Linked DNA regions of Homo sapiens: region 2 is linked to region 1. The links come from fine-mapping of genetic effects on plasma protein levels. Region 1 holds a variant in brackets. A gene starts in the other region. All regions are shown on their reverse strands. Region 1 overlaps ATXN2 (ataxin 2). Region 2 holds the start of TNFRSF4 (TNF receptor superfamily member 4).

What was found. A credible set is the group of variants that fine-mapping cannot tell apart. PIP is the chance, under the fine-mapping model, that this variant and not a neighbour inherited with it causes the effect. Protein levels are from antibody-based Olink assays in UK Biobank. Linkage for the fine-mapping came from a reference panel and not from the study's own genotypes, which makes the PIPs less certain.
Region 2: TNFRSF4 starts here. The variant in region 1 is the best candidate, but not a certain one, in a credible set for the plasma level of the TNFRSF4 protein (UK Biobank, PIP 0.54).

What each region holds. Positions count from the first base shown.
Region 1 is chr12:111,491,625-111,499,758 of GRCh38, reverse strand. The region is part of intron 14 of ATXN2 (ataxin 2); the gene reads left to right. Among named protein-coding and RNA genes, the nearest start is that of SH2B3, 90 kb to the right of the region's middle. The variant G/A (reference allele first, on the strand shown) is at 4,763.
Region 2 is chr1:1,206,378-1,214,499 of GRCh38, reverse strand. TNFRSF4 (TNF receptor superfamily member 4) reads left to right here and starts at 347. Exons shown (of 7, transcript NM_003327.4): 1 at 347-517; 2 at 715-837; 3 at 1,407-1,508; 4 at 1,796-1,862; 5 at 2,362-2,558; 6 at 2,668-2,796; 7 at 2,875-3,160. The coding sequence starts at 373. The coding sequence ends at 2,945. TNFRSF18 (TNF receptor superfamily member 18) reads left to right here and starts at 7,908. Exons shown (of 5, transcript NM_004195.3): 1 at 7,908-8,115. The coding sequence starts at 7,929. RefSeq lists silencers at 1,220-1,269, 5,473-5,582, 6,163-6,252 and an enhancer at 5,449-6,328.

The sequences.
Region 1 (8,134 bases):
CTTCCCAAAATGCTGAAATTATAGTTGTGAGCCACTGCACCTGGCCTTGTATGTCTTCCTTTTTTTTTTGTTTTGTTTTGTTTTTGAGACAGAGTCTCACTTTGTTGCCCAGGCTGGAGCGTAGTGGTGTGATCTTGGCTCACTGCGCCCTACACCTCCCGGATTCAAGCAATTCTCCTGCCTCCTGCCACCATGTCTGCCTAATTTTTGTATTTTTAGTAGAGACGGGATTTCTCCTTGTTGCCCAGGCTGGTCTTGAACTCCTAACCTCAGGTGATTTACCTGCCTCAGCCTCCCAAAGTGCTAGGATTACAGGCGTGAGCTGCTGCGCCCAGCCTGTATGTCGTCTTTTGAGAAATGTCTATTCAGATCTTTTGCCCATTTTTAATTGAGTTACTAAAATTTTCCCTATGGAGTTGCTTGAGTGCCTTTTATATTCTGGTTATTGATCCCTTGTCAGATGAGTAGTTTGCAAATATTTTCTCCCATTCTGTGGGCTGTCTCTTCACTTTGTTGATGGTTTCCTTTGCTGTGCAGAAGCTTTTTAACTTGATGTGATCCCATTTGTCCATCTTTGCTTTGGTTGCCTGTACTTTTGGGGTATTACTCAAGAAATCTTTGCCCAGAGTAATGTCCCTGGGAGTTTAATGTTTTCTTTTAGTAGTTTCATAGTTTGAGGTCTTAGATTTAAATCTTTAGTCCATTTTGATTTGATTTTTTTTTAATATGGTGGGACACAGGGGTCTGGTTTCATTCTTCTGCATATGGATATCCAGTTTTCCCAGCACCATTTATTGAAGAGACTGTCCTTTCCCCAGTGTATGTTCATGGCTTCTTTGTGGAAAATGAGTTCACTTAGACGTATGGATTCATTTCTGAGTTCTCTGTTCTGTTTCATTGATCTATATCTTTTTTTATGCCAGTACCATGCCATTTTGGTTACAATAATTTGAAGTCAGATAATGATTCCTCCCGTTTTGTTCATTTTGCTCAGTATGGCTTTTGCTCTTTTGGGCCTTTTGTGGTTCCCTACAAATTTTAGAATTATTTTTGTCTACTTCTGTGAGGAATGTCATTGGTATTTTGATAGGGATTGCACTGAATCTGTAGATTGCTTTGAGTATTATCAACATTTTAGCAATATTAATTCTTCTAATCCATAAACATGGAATCTCTTTTCATGTTTTTTCTGTGTCATCAATTTCAGTGTTTTAAAGTTGTCATTATAGAAATCTTTTACTCATTTGGTTAAGTTTATTCCTAAGTATTTTATTATATTTGTAGCTATTGTAAATGGGATTGCGTTTAAAAAATTTTTCAGATTGTTTGCTGTTAAATATAAAAATGCTCCTGATTTTTGTGTGTTGATTTTTGTATCCTGCAATTTTACTGAATTTGTTTGTCAGTTCTAATAGGTTTTTCTTTTTTGGAGTCTAGGTTTTTCCAAATGTAAGATCATATTATCTGCAAACAAGGATAATTTGACTTCTTCCATTCCAGTGTGGATGCTTTTTATTTCTTTCTGTTGTCTGATTGCTCCAATTAGGACTTCCGAGTATTATGTTGAATAACAATGGTGAAAGTGGGCATCCTTGTCTTGTTCCAGATCTTAGAGGAAAGCCTTTCAGTTTTTCCCTTTTCAGTATGGTACTAGTTATGGGTCTGTCATATATGGCTTCTGTTTTGTTGAGGTATATTCCTTCTATACCCAGTTCTTTGGGGTTTTTTTGTTTGTTTGTTTTTGAGATGGAGTCTCACTCTGTCACCCAGGCTGGAGTGCAGTGGCGCAATGTTGGCTCACTGCAAGCTCCACCTCCTGGGTTCATGCCGTTCTCCTGCCTCAGCCTCCCGAGTAGCTGGGACTACAGGTGTCCGCTAACACGCCCGGCTAATTTTTTGTATTTTTAGTAGAGACGGGGTTTCACCGTGTTAGCCAGGATGGTCTCGAACTCCTGACCTCATGATCTGCCCGTCTCAGCCTCCCAAAGTGCTGGGATTACAGGCGTGAGCCACCACGCCCGGCCAAGGGTTTTAATCATAAGGGGATGTGGCATTTTATGTGATATAAATTATATATTTATATCATGTGATATATATTTATATCATACACAGTATAAATAATATATATATATATTTTTTAGTCTTTGTCTTTTATTCTGTTAAGATGTACCATGTTTATTGATTTGCGTATGTCGAACCATCCTTGCATCCCTGGGATGAATCCCACTTAGTCATGATGAATGATCTTTTTAATGTGTTACTGAATTCGGTTTGCTAGTATTATATTGAGGATTTTTGCATAATGTTCTTCAGAGACACTGGCTTCTAGTTTTCCCTTTTTGATGTGTCCTTTGGTTTTGTATAGGGTAATAGTGGCCTTGTAGAATGAGTTTAGAAGTATTCCCTCTTCCTGTATTGTGTTGGAATAGTTTGAGTAGGATTGGTATTAGTTCTTCTTTAAAGGTTTAGTAGAATTCAGCAGTGAAGCCATCAGGTCCATGGCTTTTCTTTGCTGGGAGACTATTTCTTATAGCTTTGATCTCGTTACTTGTTATTGGTCTCGTTACTTGTTATTGTATTTGGGTTTTGGATTTCTTTGTGGTTCAGTCTTGGTAGGTTGTATGTGTCTAGGAATTTATCCATTTCTTCAAGGTTTTCCAATGTATCAGCATATAGATGCTCATAGTAGTCTCTAATGATCCTTTGAATTTCGGTGGTAACAATTATAATGTCTCCTTTTTCATCTCTCATTTTATTATTTGGGTTTTCTCTTTTTTTTCTGAGTCTGGCTAAAGGTTTGTCAGTTTTGTTTATCTCTTCAAAACAATTTACTGTTTTATTGATCTTTTGTATTTTCTTCATTTCAATTTTATTTATTTCTGCTTTGATTTTTTTTATTTCTTCTACTGATTTTAGGTTTTGTCCTTGCTTTTCTAGTTCTTTAGGATGTATTGGCAGATGAAGTTTTTCCACTTTTTTGATGTAGGCACTTACTGCTGTAAACATTCCTCTTATTGTTGCTTTTACTGTATCCTATAGGTTTTGATAAGCTGTGTTTCCATTTTCATTTGTTTCAAGGAATTTTCCAGTTTTCTTCTTAATTTCTTCATGGACCCACTGGTCATTCAGGAGCATATTGCTTAATTTTCATGTATTTGTATACTTTCCAAAGTTCCTCTTGTTATCTAGTGTTATTTTATTTTATTTTTATTTTTGTTTTTTTGAGATGGAGTCTCGCTCTGTCACCCATGCTGGAGTGTAGTGGCGCGATCTCGGCTTACTGCAACCTCTGCCTCCCCAGTTCAAGTGATTCTTCTGCCTCAGCCTCCTGAGTAGCTGGGATTACAGGCATGTACCACCACTCCTGGCTAATTTTTTTTTGTATTTTTAGTAGAGAGGGGGTTTCACCATGTTGGTCAAGCTGATCTCGAACTCCTGACCTCAGATGATCCACCCACCTTGGCCTCCTAAAGTGCTGGAATTACAGGCATGAGCCACCGTGCCCGGCCTCTAGTGTTATCTTATTGTGATCAGAGAAGATAGTTGATATGATTTTAACTTTTTTGAATTTTTATTTATTTATTTGTTTGTTTGTTTGTTTGTTTGTAACAGAGTCTCACTCTGTTACCCAGGCTGGAGTACATGTCATGATCTTGGCTCACCTGCAACCTCCGCCTTCCTGGCTCAAGCAATCCTCCCACCTTAGCCTTCCAAGTAGCTGGGACTACAGGCACATGCCGTCACATATGGCTGATATTTTTGGATTTTTTTTTTTTTTGTAGAGATGGGGCTTTGCGATGTGTCCCAGGGTTGTTTCGAACTCCTGAGCTCAAGCAATCCACCTATTTCGGCCTCCCAAGGTGCTGGGATTACAGACATGAGCCACTGTGCCACGTCAAATCTTTAGACTTGTTTTGTGGCTTAACATAGGGTCTATCTTTGAGAGCAATCCATATGTTGAGGAGAAGAATGTGTATTCTATAGCTGTTGGACACAATGTTCTGTAAATATGTATTGGGCCTATTTGGTCTATAGAGCAAATTAGGTCTAATGTTTCTTTGTTGATTTTCTGTCTGAATGATCTGTCCATTGCTGAGAGTGGGGTGTTGAAGTTTCCGACTGTTACTGAGGTCTGTTTCTCTTTTTTGCTCTAATAATGTTTGCTTTATATATCTGGATGCTCCAGTATTGGTTGCATATGTATTTATACTTGTTATAACCTCTTGCCGAATTGATCCCTTTATCATTATACAATAATCTTCTTTGTCTGTTTTTATAGACTTTGTCTCAAAATCTATTTTATCTAAGCATAGCTACTCCTGTTCTTTTCTGGTTTCCATTTGCATGGAATATTGTTTTCCAGCTCTTCAATTTTAGTCTATGTGTGATTTTATAGGTAAAGTGTGTTTCTTGTAGGCAATGGATCTTTGGTTTTTTTTTTTTTTTTTTTGAGACAGAGTTTTGCTATTGTTGCCCAGGCTGGAGGGCAATGGCGCTATCTCAGCTCACTGCAACCTCCGCCTCCTGAGTTCAAGCGATTCTCCTGCCTCAGCCTCCCAAGTAGCTGGGATTACAGGCGCCTGCCACCAAGCCCAGCTAAATTTTTTGTATTTTCAGTAGAGATGGGGTTTCAGTATGTTCGTCAGGCTGTTCTTGAACTCCTAACCTCAGGTGATTTGCCTGCCTTGGCCTCCCAAAGTCCTGGGATTACAGGCGTGAGCCACCGCACCCAGCCTTTTTTTTAAATCCATTTAGCCACTCT[G/A]TATCTTTTGATTGGAGAGTTTAGTCGATTTACATTCAGTGTTGTTACTGATTAGTGAGGACTTAACTACTACCATTTTGTTACTTATTATCTGGTTGTTTTGTAGTCCTACTCCCTCCCTTCCCCCTTCTTTTTTACTTCCTCTTCGCTCCTTTTTTCCCTCCCTCCCTTCCTTGTTTTGAAAGTGATTTTCTCTGGTGGTATGTTTTAATTTCCTGCTTTATATTTTTTGTGTATCTGTTGTAGGTGTTTTTGATTTAAGATCACCATGACAGCTGGGTGCAGTGGTTCACACCTGTAATCCCAGCACTTTGGGAGGCCGAGGTGGGTGGATCAAGAGGTCAGGAGATTGAGACCAGCCTGGCTAACATGGTGAAACCCCATCTCTACTAAAAATACAAAACTTAGCCAGGCGTGGAGGCACGTGCCTGTAATCTCAGATACTCAGGAGGCTGAGGCAGGAGAATTGCTTGAACCCAGGAGGCAGAGGTTGCAGTGAGTCAATATTGTGCCACTGCACCCCAGCCTGGGCGACAGAGTGAGACTCCGTCTCAAAAAAAAAAAAAAAAAAGAGATCACATAAGGGTTGCAAATAACATTTTATAACCCATTATTTTAAACCAATGACAACTTGAAACTTTGATTGCAAAAACAAGCAAGCAAAGAGAAAACTAATAAAAACTCTACACTTCATCTGCCCGCTTTTTAACTTTTGTTGTTTTTATTTATATCTTTATTATACTATGTCTTAAAAAACTGTAGTTATAAGCCAGGCGCAGTGGTTCACGTGTGTAATCCCAGCACTTTGGGAGGCTGAGGTGGGCGGATCACCTAAGGTCAGGAGTTCGAGACCAGCCTAGCCAATATGGCAAAACCCCCTCTCTACTAAAAATAGAAAAATTAGCCGGACATGGTGGCGGGTGCCTGTAATCCCAGCTACTCGGAGGCTGAGGCAGGAGAATCACTTGAACCCAGGAGGCCCAGGTTGCAGTGAGCCGAGAGTGCGCCACTGCACTCCAGTCTGGGCAACAGAGTAAGACTGTCTCAAAAAACAATACAAAACAAAACAAAACCCTGGCCTAGTGGCTCACGCCTAATCCCAGCACTTTGGAAGGCAAAGGTGGGGCGAATCACAAGGTTAGGAGTTCGAGACCAGCCTGACCAACGTGGTGAAACTCTGTCTCTACTAAAAATACAAAAATTAGCCAGGCGTGGTGGCACGCACCTGTAATCCTAGCTACTCAGGAGGCTGAGGCAGGAGAATCGCTTGAACCTGGGAGGCGGAGGTTGCAGTTAGCCGAGATCGCGCCACTGCCGTCCAGCCTGGGCAGCAGAGCAAGACTCTGTCTCACAAAAAAAAAAAAAATTGTAGTTCTTATTTTTGAAAGGTTCATTTTTTATTCTTCCTGCTCAAAATATGAGTAGTAGTTTATACACCACAATTACAGTGTTACAATATTCTGTATTTTTCTGTGTACTTGTTACCAGTGAGTTTTTGCACCTTCAGGTGATTTATTATTGTTTGTTAACATCCTTTTCTTGCAGATTGAAGAACTTTTTTTTTTTTTTTTTTTTTTTGAGACAGAGTCATGCTCTGTTACCAGCCTGGAGTGCAGTGGTGCCATCTTGGCTCACTACAACCTCCAACTCCCAGGTTCAAGCGATTCTTCTGCCTCAGCCTCCCAAGTAGCTGGGATTACAAGCATGTGCCACCACGCCCAGCTACTTTTTGTATTTTTAGTAAAGACGGGGTTTTGCCATATTTGCCAGGCTGGTCTTGAGCTCCTGACCTCAGGGTGATCCGCCCGCCTTGGCATCCTAAAGTGCTAGGATTATAAGCGTGAGTCATCGTGCCCAACTTGGTTGTTTATTTTCAAATAGCCTGAATTCAAGCTCACTAATGTTTTCTGCTGCTTGATACATTTCTGCTATTGAGAGACTGATGCATTTTTCAGTTTGTCAATTGAATTTTTCCACTTTGGGATTTCTGCTTGATTCTTTTTACTAATAATTATTGCAGTCTCTTTTTTAAATTTATAGGATTCTGAATTTGTTCTCTGTATTATCTTGGATTTCGTTGAACTTTCTCAAAGCATTCAGCTTGAATTCTGTCTGAAAGTTCACATATCTCTTATCACTTGGGAATTGGTCACTGGTGTCCTTTATTTTTAGTTCATTTGGTGAGGTCATGTTTTCTCAGATGGCCTTGATGCTTGTGGATGTTCATCAGTGTCTGGGCATTGAAGAGTTGGGTATTCTGTTCTTTGTAGTCTGGTTTTGTTTGTACGCATTCTTTTTTTTTTTTTTCTGTTTTTGAGACAGAGTCTCGCTCTGTCGCCCAGGCTGGAGTGCAGTGGCACAGTCTTTGCTCACCGCAACCTCCGTCTCCCGGATTCAAGCAATTCTCCTGCCTCAGCCTCCTGAGTAGCTGGGATTACAGGTGCGTGCCACCACGCCTGGCTAATTTTTGTATTTTTAGTAAATATGGTGTTTCACCATGTTGGTCAGGCTGGTCTCGAACTCCTAACCTCGTGATCTGTCCGCCTTGGCCTCTCAGAGTGTTGGGATTACAGGCGTTAGCCACTGCATCCGGCTCCCATTCTTCTTGAGAAGGTTTTTCAAGTATTCAAAGGGAATTAAGTGTTGTCATCTAAGTCTTCGCTCACTGCAGCCATACATGCATTAGAGGGCACCCCAAGACTAGTAATGTTGTGACTCTGTAGAGGTATCACCTTGGTAGTCTTGGGGAAGATCTGGGAGAATTCCCTGTATTACCAGGCAGTCTCTTGTCCTCTTACATTTCTCCAAACAAATGGAGTCTCTCTTTGTGCTGAGCTGCTTGGAGTTTGGGGAAGGGTGACACAAGCACTGCCATGGCCACCGTCACTGGAACTGTACTTGGTCTCACCCAAGGCCTGTGGCAGCTATTTTCTGGCCACCACTGATGTTAATTTAAGGCCCAAGGGTGCTTTAGTCAGTAGGTGAAGAATCCTGCAAGAACTGGGTCTTTACTTTCAGTGCAGCAGGTTCCCTTCTGGCCCAGGGTGTGTCTAGAAATGCTGCCCAGGAGCCAGGGCCTGGGATCGGGAGCTTTAGGAATCTGCTTTATTGTACTGGGGCTGAGCTGGCACCCACTTGCAAGATAAAGTCCTTTTTACTCTTCTCTCACCTCAAGCAGGTGGGTCTCCCCATGGACACCACAGCTGTGAATGTGCGGGGTCATATCTGAAGCTGGCACAATACGACATGGCACCTTGTTTTTTATTCAAGGCACAAGGGCTCTTTAGTCAGCTGGTGGTGAATCCTACTAGGACTAGGTATTTCCCTTCAAGGCAATGGGTTCCCTTCTGGTCCAGAATATGTCTAGAAATG
Region 2 (8,122 bases), not on the chromosome of region 1:
ACCATGCTTCAGCAGTGCCACAGCCCTGAAGGTCCAGACTGAGGAGTTGCCTCTCCTGACTCAGTGCTGCCTCAGTTTACCCACGTGCTCCATGGACCTTTTTGCTGAGGGTCGAGCCGCAGGCCAGGCCCTACTGTGCCCTGGGGTCTGAACACGGTGGTCTTGGGCAGAAGAGGTCAGAAGGCAGAATAAGCCAATGCTGGGGGTGCCCAGACCCCGCCTTTGTGCCCAGCCCACAGCCAGGGTCCCCGGCCTGCCACCTTCCTCCTCCCGCCTCCTCTGCCCTCCTCCCCTCTCCCCTCCCCTCCTCCACAGTCCTTATAGCCACACCCCGCAAGGAAAACCCAGACTCTGGCGACAGCAGAGACGAGGATGTGCGTGGGGGCTCGGCGGCTGGGCCGCGGGCCGTGTGCGGCTCTGCTCCTCCTGGGCCTGGGGCTGAGCACCGTGACGGGGCTCCACTGTGTCGGGGACACCTACCCCAGCAACGACCGGTGCTGCCACGAGTGCAGGCCAGGTGAGGCCTCAGGAGGGGTCGCCACGCACGGGCACTCCAGGGACTGGGGGCTGGGGCAGGGATGGGCCAGCCAGGAGGCTGGTCCTGGGGAGGGGGCGGGTGAGGGGCCGGCCAAGCCTGGCAGAGGAGCCGCCTGGGGGGGTCCACGGGCGCAAGCCTGGGGCCTGACCGCTGCCTGACGCCGGCCTCTGCTGCAGGCAACGGGATGGTGAGCCGCTGCAGCCGCTCCCAGAACACGGTGTGCCGTCCGTGCGGGCCGGGCTTCTACAACGACGTGGTCAGCTCCAAGCCGTGCAAGCCCTGCACGTGGTGTAACCTCAGTGAGCTCCCACCTGGCCCCACAGCCCCACCCAGCACAGGGGGCGGCAGCCTGGCACCCACATTCCCACGCAGCAGCATGGGGCTCCCACAGCCGCAGAAACGAACCTCAAACCACAGCGGGGTCTGCTCCGCCACAGGGGTCCTTCGAGGAGCTGAGGCGTCTCCCAGGGGCACCCCCTCTCCCTCCGGGGGCCCAGACTCGGCCCAGGCCACGTGGAGTCGGGGAGACCACGCTGGCCATGTGGCCTGGCCTTGCTGGCCTGAGCAGTGAGGCTGGGGGGTTGGGCCATGGAGACCCTGCCGCAGGCGGGGCTGGCGGCTGGAGGCGGTGGAGGGGTAGGGAAGGGTGGCTGGGGCTGCCACGGAACCAGCCCCAGGTTGTGGCCAGGAAGGGAGGGCCCAGGAGCCTCGGGGGCTGCAGGGGCTCCAAGTCTCAGGGGAGGCCGCAGACCCCTGCCCACGGCCCTCTGTGTGGTGGGGAGGCCAACCTGTCCTCCAGTGCCCACGCTTCCTGAGGACCCTGTCCACAGCCCCCACCTGACCACCCCCCCATCCGGCCCCTGCTCAGGAAGTGGGAGTGAGCGGAAGCAGCTGTGCACGGCCACACAGGACACAGTCTGCCGCTGCCGGGCGGGCACCCAGCCCCTGGACAGCTACAAGCCTGGAGTTGGTGAGCTCGGTGGCTGCGGCCGGCGGTTGGGGGTGTGCATAGCGGCTGTCTGTGACGCAGATGGGCCGTGGGCCGCAGGGACCTGGCCCCACCGGTGCCTCCTCTGGCATCCTCAAGACCGAGCTCCCGGGTCAGGGCCCACGGGTGGGATGTGGGCAGGGAGGGCTTCCAGAGGCCAAACCCACCACCCAGCCATGGGGGGCAAGTGCCTGCCCCACAGGCTCTGCCCCATGTCCCCAGCACCCGGGGCCTGTGGGCAGCCCCTGACCACCCTATCTTTGTTGCAGACTGTGCCCCCTGCCCTCCAGGGCACTTCTCCCCAGGCGACAACCAGGCCTGCAAGCCCTGGACCAAGTGAGGGGCCTGGCCAGGGGCTGGGAGGGGCTGGGGGGGGGTTGGGGTGGTTAGGAGGGCGGAGGAGCTGGGGAGCTGGGAGGGGCTGGGGGGGCAGGTGGGGTGGGGGCAGTTTTGGGGGAAGGGGAGGTGCTGGTGGCCCTGGGGGCCTGGCTATGTGGCTGGACCTGGTTGGGGAGCAGGAAGCTGCTGCCTGGGGGCAGCCTTTCCCTGTGGGTGGAGCTGGGTGTGTGGGACCCTCACCCTCCGCAGCTGGGAGGCCCTGGGGGCACAGGACAGGGAGGTGCTGGTGGGGGGTGTAGATGTGGGAGAAGGGTGTGTGGCCTTGGAGGCCCCTGTGGGGGGCACGTGGGGCTGGGCAGCGTCCTTGGCTGTCACTGGCCTGGTGTCTGTGGTAGATGCTGCCTGTGGCTGGCCAGCGTGGACCCTGTTATCCCCACCGCATCTCCCGGGTCCCAGGGGGTTTCTGGCCTGAGCAACACCTCCTGTTCCCCAACAGCTGCACCTTGGCTGGGAAGCACACCCTGCAGCCGGCCAGCAATAGCTCGGACGCAATCTGTGAGGACAGGGACCCCCCAGCCACGCAGCCCCAGGAGACCCAGGGCCCCCCGGCCAGGCCCATCACTGTCCAGCCCACTGAAGCCTGGCCCAGAACCTCACAGGGACCCTCCACCCGGCCCGTGGAGGTCCCCGGGGGTAAGGGCGCCTGGCCCAGCCCAGCGGGGCCCCCAACCCGAATAGGAGAAGGGGAGGGCGGCATGGGGGCCCCTCCTGTGGACCCCACCCAGCAGACCCCTTCCTGCAGGCCGTGCGGTTGCCGCCATCCTGGGCCTGGGCCTGGTGCTGGGGCTGCTGGGCCCCCTGGCCATCCTGCTGGCCCTGTACCTGCTCCGGAGGGACCAGAGGCTGCCCCCCGATGCCCACAAGCCCCCTGGTGAGTGCCTCATGGCCCTGCCGCACTGCTCCTGGCGGGTGAGGCCCACCCACCAATCTCTCCTTTTTTCCTCCCCAGGGGGAGGCAGTTTCCGGACCCCCATCCAAGAGGAGCAGGCCGACGCCCACTCCACCCTGGCCAAGATCTGACCTGGGCCCACCAAGGTGGACGCTGGGCCCCGCCAGGCTGGAGCCCGGAGGGTCTGCTGGGCGAGCAGGGCAGGTGCAGGCCGCCTGCCCCGCCACGCTCCTGGGCCAACTCTGCACCGTTCTAGGTGCCGATGGCTGCCTCCGGCTCTCTGCTTACGTATGCCATGCATACCTCCTGCCCCGCGGGACCACAATAAAAACCTTGGCAGACGGGAGTCTCCGACCGGCACTGTGGGCTGCACACCTGTGGCATGGAGGCTTGGGCCGTGCCCGCCTCTGACTGGAGAGGGGTCTTGGGAGGCTTGGGCCGTGCCCGCCTCTGGCTGGACAGGGGTCTTGGGAGGCTTGGGCCGTGCCCGCCTCTGGCTGGAGAGGGGTCTTGGGAGACTTGGGCCGTGCCAACCTGTGGCTGGAAAGGGGTCTTGGGAGACTTGGGCCGTGCCAACCTGTGGCTGGAGAGGGGTCTTGGGAGACTTGGGCTGTGCCAACCTGTGGCTGGAGAGGGGTCTTGGGCCAGGGTGGAGGTGAGGGTAGCGGGGTCAAGTGGGACCCTGGAGGTTGGTCCCTGGGTGCGAGTTCCAGATTGAGTGGGGAGCGGGGGGAGAGACTGGGAAAGCTCAGGCCCAAGGCTGCCTGGGGTGGAGGTTCCTGGCCAGGCGCTGACAAGGGCAGCTGGCCCCTGAGCCCCGGGTTGCCCAAGGAGCTTGGGAGTGGCTGACCCCCGGGGCTCTGTGTCCTTGGAGGAGGAGTGTAGAGACCTGCCCCTCTTCCCCTCCACACCTACGCCCACCCCTTGCTGCACCTGGAAGGGGGTCCCAGGGCCCCTGAGCACCCCGAGGAGTCCCTGCAAAGGGCCCACACGGCCCCTATGTCCCTGCCATAGGTGTCCAGGGGGACAGTCACCTTGGAAACCACAGTTTCTGCTTGAGCCAACTTTCTGTCCACCCTGGGCCCCGGCCGTCCCACTCCTGCGCACTTAAGAGTCCTGGGATCTGAATGAGAATGACCACAGCGACTTCATGTAACGTGGCCCCACAGTGGAGAAACCCAGGCATCCGCCAGCAGCGTGGATGCGCGAGTGCTGGCGTGTTCAGATGAGCTCCCAGCTCCTCGGCCCACACCACAGGTGTCCACAGACGCTCCCAAGGCCCTGGGGCCGTCCCCGGCCGTGCGGGAATCTTCTCAAGCTGGTGTCTGGGAGTGGGGTATCCTTCGAGCAGCACAGAGCCTGCTCCCGAGCGCCAGTCACGCCCGAGGCCACAGCTCGGGAACAAGGCGGGAGCAGCCCTGCAGGCTTCCCGCAGGGAAGACACCCCGGGCGTCTAAGCGACATCTGTGTCCCTCGGGAGGCGGAGGTGCCTGTTCGCCTCCATGGTGTCAGGGGCTGAAGAGAAACACTCCCGAGGGCTAAGACGTCTCACTGCACTTGTTTTTTCTTTCTTTTTTTTTTTTTGCCGGAGTCTTGCTGTGTCACCCAGGCTGGAGTGCAGTGGTGTGATCTCAGCTCACCAACCTCTGCCTCCCGGGTTCACGCCATTCTCCTGCCTCAGCCTCCCAAGTAGCTGGGACTACAGGCGCCCAGCACCACACCCGGCTAATTTTTGTATTTTATTAGAGACAGGGTTTCACCATGTTGGCTAAGCTGGTCTTGAACTCCTGACCTCAGGTGATCCACCTGCCTCGGTGCCCTGGAGTACTGCGATTCCAGGTGTGAGCCACCACGCCTGGCCCTCACTGCACTCATGAGCAAGAAACACACAGCCGAGGCCGGTCACGGTGGCTCACGCCTAGAATCCTAGCACTTTGGGAGGCTGAGGCCAGACGATCGTCTGAGCTCAGGAGTTTGAGACCCGCCTGGGTAACATGGCAAGACCCTTTTCTATGAAAAATAGAAAAAATCAGCCGGGTGTGGTGGTGCATGCCTGTGGTCCCGGCTACTTGGGAGGCCGAGGTGGGAGGATCACTTGAGCCCAAGAGATGGAGGCTGCAGTGAGACGTGACTGGAAAAAAAAAAAGAAATTTAAAAAAATTACTTAAGAAGAAACACATGAAGCCTCATGGAAGGTTTTGCTGAGGGCCTGGCACAGCCTGGACACTCCGGCTACCGTGGCTGGTGTGGCCCAGCCCCGCAGCTGCACCCGCTGCCCCACACAGCGTCCCTGGGCCAGCCTTCCCTCTCCCTGCGTCCTCCAACAGCGCACGCTGCCCACGGCTGTCCAGGCCTCCTGTGCCTGGCGGATGGCTCCCCCCTGCCGGTGTCGTGGAAGTGGGGAACCGGCCCCGGGGGTGCACAGTGGGAGCGCCACGCGCCACTCACAACAGCCCAAGGTGCCGGGACCACAGGTGGCTGTAAGGAAGACGCCCATCTCTGGCCTCGGGCTGCCCTGGACCCCTCCTGCCTCTGCAGCTGGTTTTCTCCCCTGGGTCTCTCTCTCCTCAAACCTCTGTCTTCCACCCACTCTCTGCTAACCACAAGCCTCCCCCCCCGCAGCATAGGGAAGTCAGAGGCCGTCCTGTCCCCCATCCAGCACCTTCACCGAGTTCCCCGGGTTCCTGCACACGGTTCAGCCTGCAGGCCCTGCACAGGGTTGGGGCCGCGCCTCTGAGAGCCCCCCGCCCCCCGCCCCGTGGGGCAGGCGAGGCCAGACCTCCAGGCAGGATGGCGGGTGGGTGGGGGAAGGGGTCAGGTGGCCGGGACTGGAGCGGCCAGATCCTGTGGGGCCCGCAGGTCGACGGCTATGGGAAAGGGGCCTCCTCCCCAAACCTGGCGCCCATACCCATCGCTTCCTGTCTCCTCCCCTCTGGGCACAGCACCCCCCAGGCCCCGTGGGACTTATTCCCCAGCAGGACCCCTTGCCGCACCCCCAGATGGACACGGGGCCACCTCCTCTTGGTCTCCATGCTCACCCTCCCCGCCCCCTCGCCTGACGCCATCTCTGCTGGCAACTCCTGTGCCATCTGTGCCGAAGGCCCTGCCTGAACTCTGGCTCAGTGCCCATCTGCACCCTCCCCGTGGGGCCTCACAGCTGCCCTTCTGGACGTACGCAAGGGCTGTCCCTCGCCCGGCCCGTGGGCTGCTCTGCTGTGTGAATGCCCCGTCATTTGTGTCACCGGTGAGCTGCTCAATAAGATGAACAAGTCACCTCCAGCCTCGCAGCCCAAGGATAGGAGTCACGGGGAGCCGGGGAGGGGCCTTCTGCGGCGAGAGGGATGGGAGGGTGGACGTCACACCCCTGCAGCCCCTCCGGGGACCACCCTGTGTGGCAAGCTGCTCTCCGGCTGTTCAAAGTGTCAGCTGCGCCACGGGGCGGGGGGGAGGGGCTCCTCTGCCCGCTGGCCGCCTCCCACTTGGCCCCATAAACTGCTCGCTCCTCTAACTCTGTCCCTGCCTCTAGATGGATGACTCACACCGTGTGGTCTGATGAGCATTCTTTATTTTTTGTGATGGAGTCTCGCTCTGTCACCCAGGCTGGAGTGCAATGGTGCCATCTTGGTTCGCCGCAACCTCTGCCTCCCAGGTTCAAGCAATTCTCCTGCCTCAGCCTCCCGAGTAGCTGGGATTACAGGCGTGCGCCACCACGCCTGGCTAATTTTTTTTGTATTTTTAGTAGAGACGGGCTTTCTCCATGTGGGTCAGGCTGGTCTCGAACCCCTGACCTCAGGTGATCCGAGGCCCACCTCGGCCTCCCAAAATGCTGGGATTACGGGCGTGAGCCACTGATGGCGCCTCTTTCTATCCAGGGGCCCAGACCCCCTCCCAGCCTCGGGGCTGAAGATCTCCAGGCCTCTCAAAGGCCCCCAGGCCCAGCTGGCCCCACCCCTTTCCTTCCGAGCGTCGGGGCGGCCTGGAGCTGCAGAGACCCCTTCCTTCTCTGCAGTGTCTGAGGGCTGCCTCTCCAAGGCAGGCTCCTACATCTTGGATTTGAGAACTCCGGGGTGTCACAAACAGCTAATTCCTGTCATTTACCTTGGAAAAGGAGGAACCGCCTTACGGGGTGAGGCGGTGGCTGCAGGTCTCAAAAGGGTGTTGAACCACATCCACGCTCACGTTCCCGAGAGCCCCCACCCCCAGCATTCATGGGGGTCTCCACCTGTGCTGGACGGCGCAGAAGCAGGGCTGGGCAATCCAGGGAGGCTTCCTGGTGGAGGCAGGGTCCCAGAACCCCTCGGTGCCCACAGGGGAAACTGAGGCTCAGAAAGACATAGGACAGTCTCCCAAGAGCTCTGCGAGGGGCTCCTCCTCAACTCCCTCCGGGACCTGGATCTGTCTGGTGTGACGGATGAAGGTGGCTCTGAGAGACCGGGCCCTGGGTGCCCGCGGGGGCGGCTGACACTGTCCCGAGGAGGCGCCAGCACCCTCTCGTCTCCCCACCAGCTCCTCCTGGTGCCCCTCCCAAGCCCCGGGGAACTTCCCAGGTTGGCCTGAGGGGGGTCCTGGAGAGCTGCAAGCAAGGGGGAGGGGAGCCCACAGGCCTGCAGCCCATGGTGAGTTTCACACCTGAAGCCAGCCAGGTGGGGTGTGCTGAGCCGAGGGGTCCCTGTCCCCATTCTGTGGGGTTCCCCAGCACGGGGCTCCATGGTTGAGGCTCTCTGGGGGTGGCCAGAATTTGTGGAGACCTCTCGGGGACTCGCAGATACCACCCGGAGGCAGTGGGATGGAGGAGTGATTGGCTGACCCCCGCCCTCCAAGGGGCCCCCATGGGACAAGGTGCTATAAACGCCGCCCCCTGCACTGGGGACACCAATGTGGCCGCAGACTTTGCATAGAAAACCTTTCTGATCCCCGCCAGCCTGGTTTCCCCGCCCCTGCCGGCGACCTGCGGGGGACCGGGCTGTGTCCGCAGTGTCTACACCCCCTCCTCACACGCACTTCACCTGGGTCGGGATTCTCAGGTCATGAACGGTCCCAGCCACCTCCGGGCAGGGCGGGTGAGGACGGGGACGGGGCGTGTCCAACTGGCTGTGGGCTCTTGAAACCCGAGCATGGCACAGCACGGGGCGATGGGCGCGTTTCGGGCCCTGTGCGGCCTGGCGCTGCTGTGCGCGCTCAGCCTGGGTCAGCGCCCCACCGGGGGTCCCGGGTGCGGCCCTGGGCGCCTCCTGCTTGGGACGGGAACGGACGCGCGCTGCTGCCGGGTTCACACGACGCGCTGCTGCCGCGATTACCCGGGTAAGTA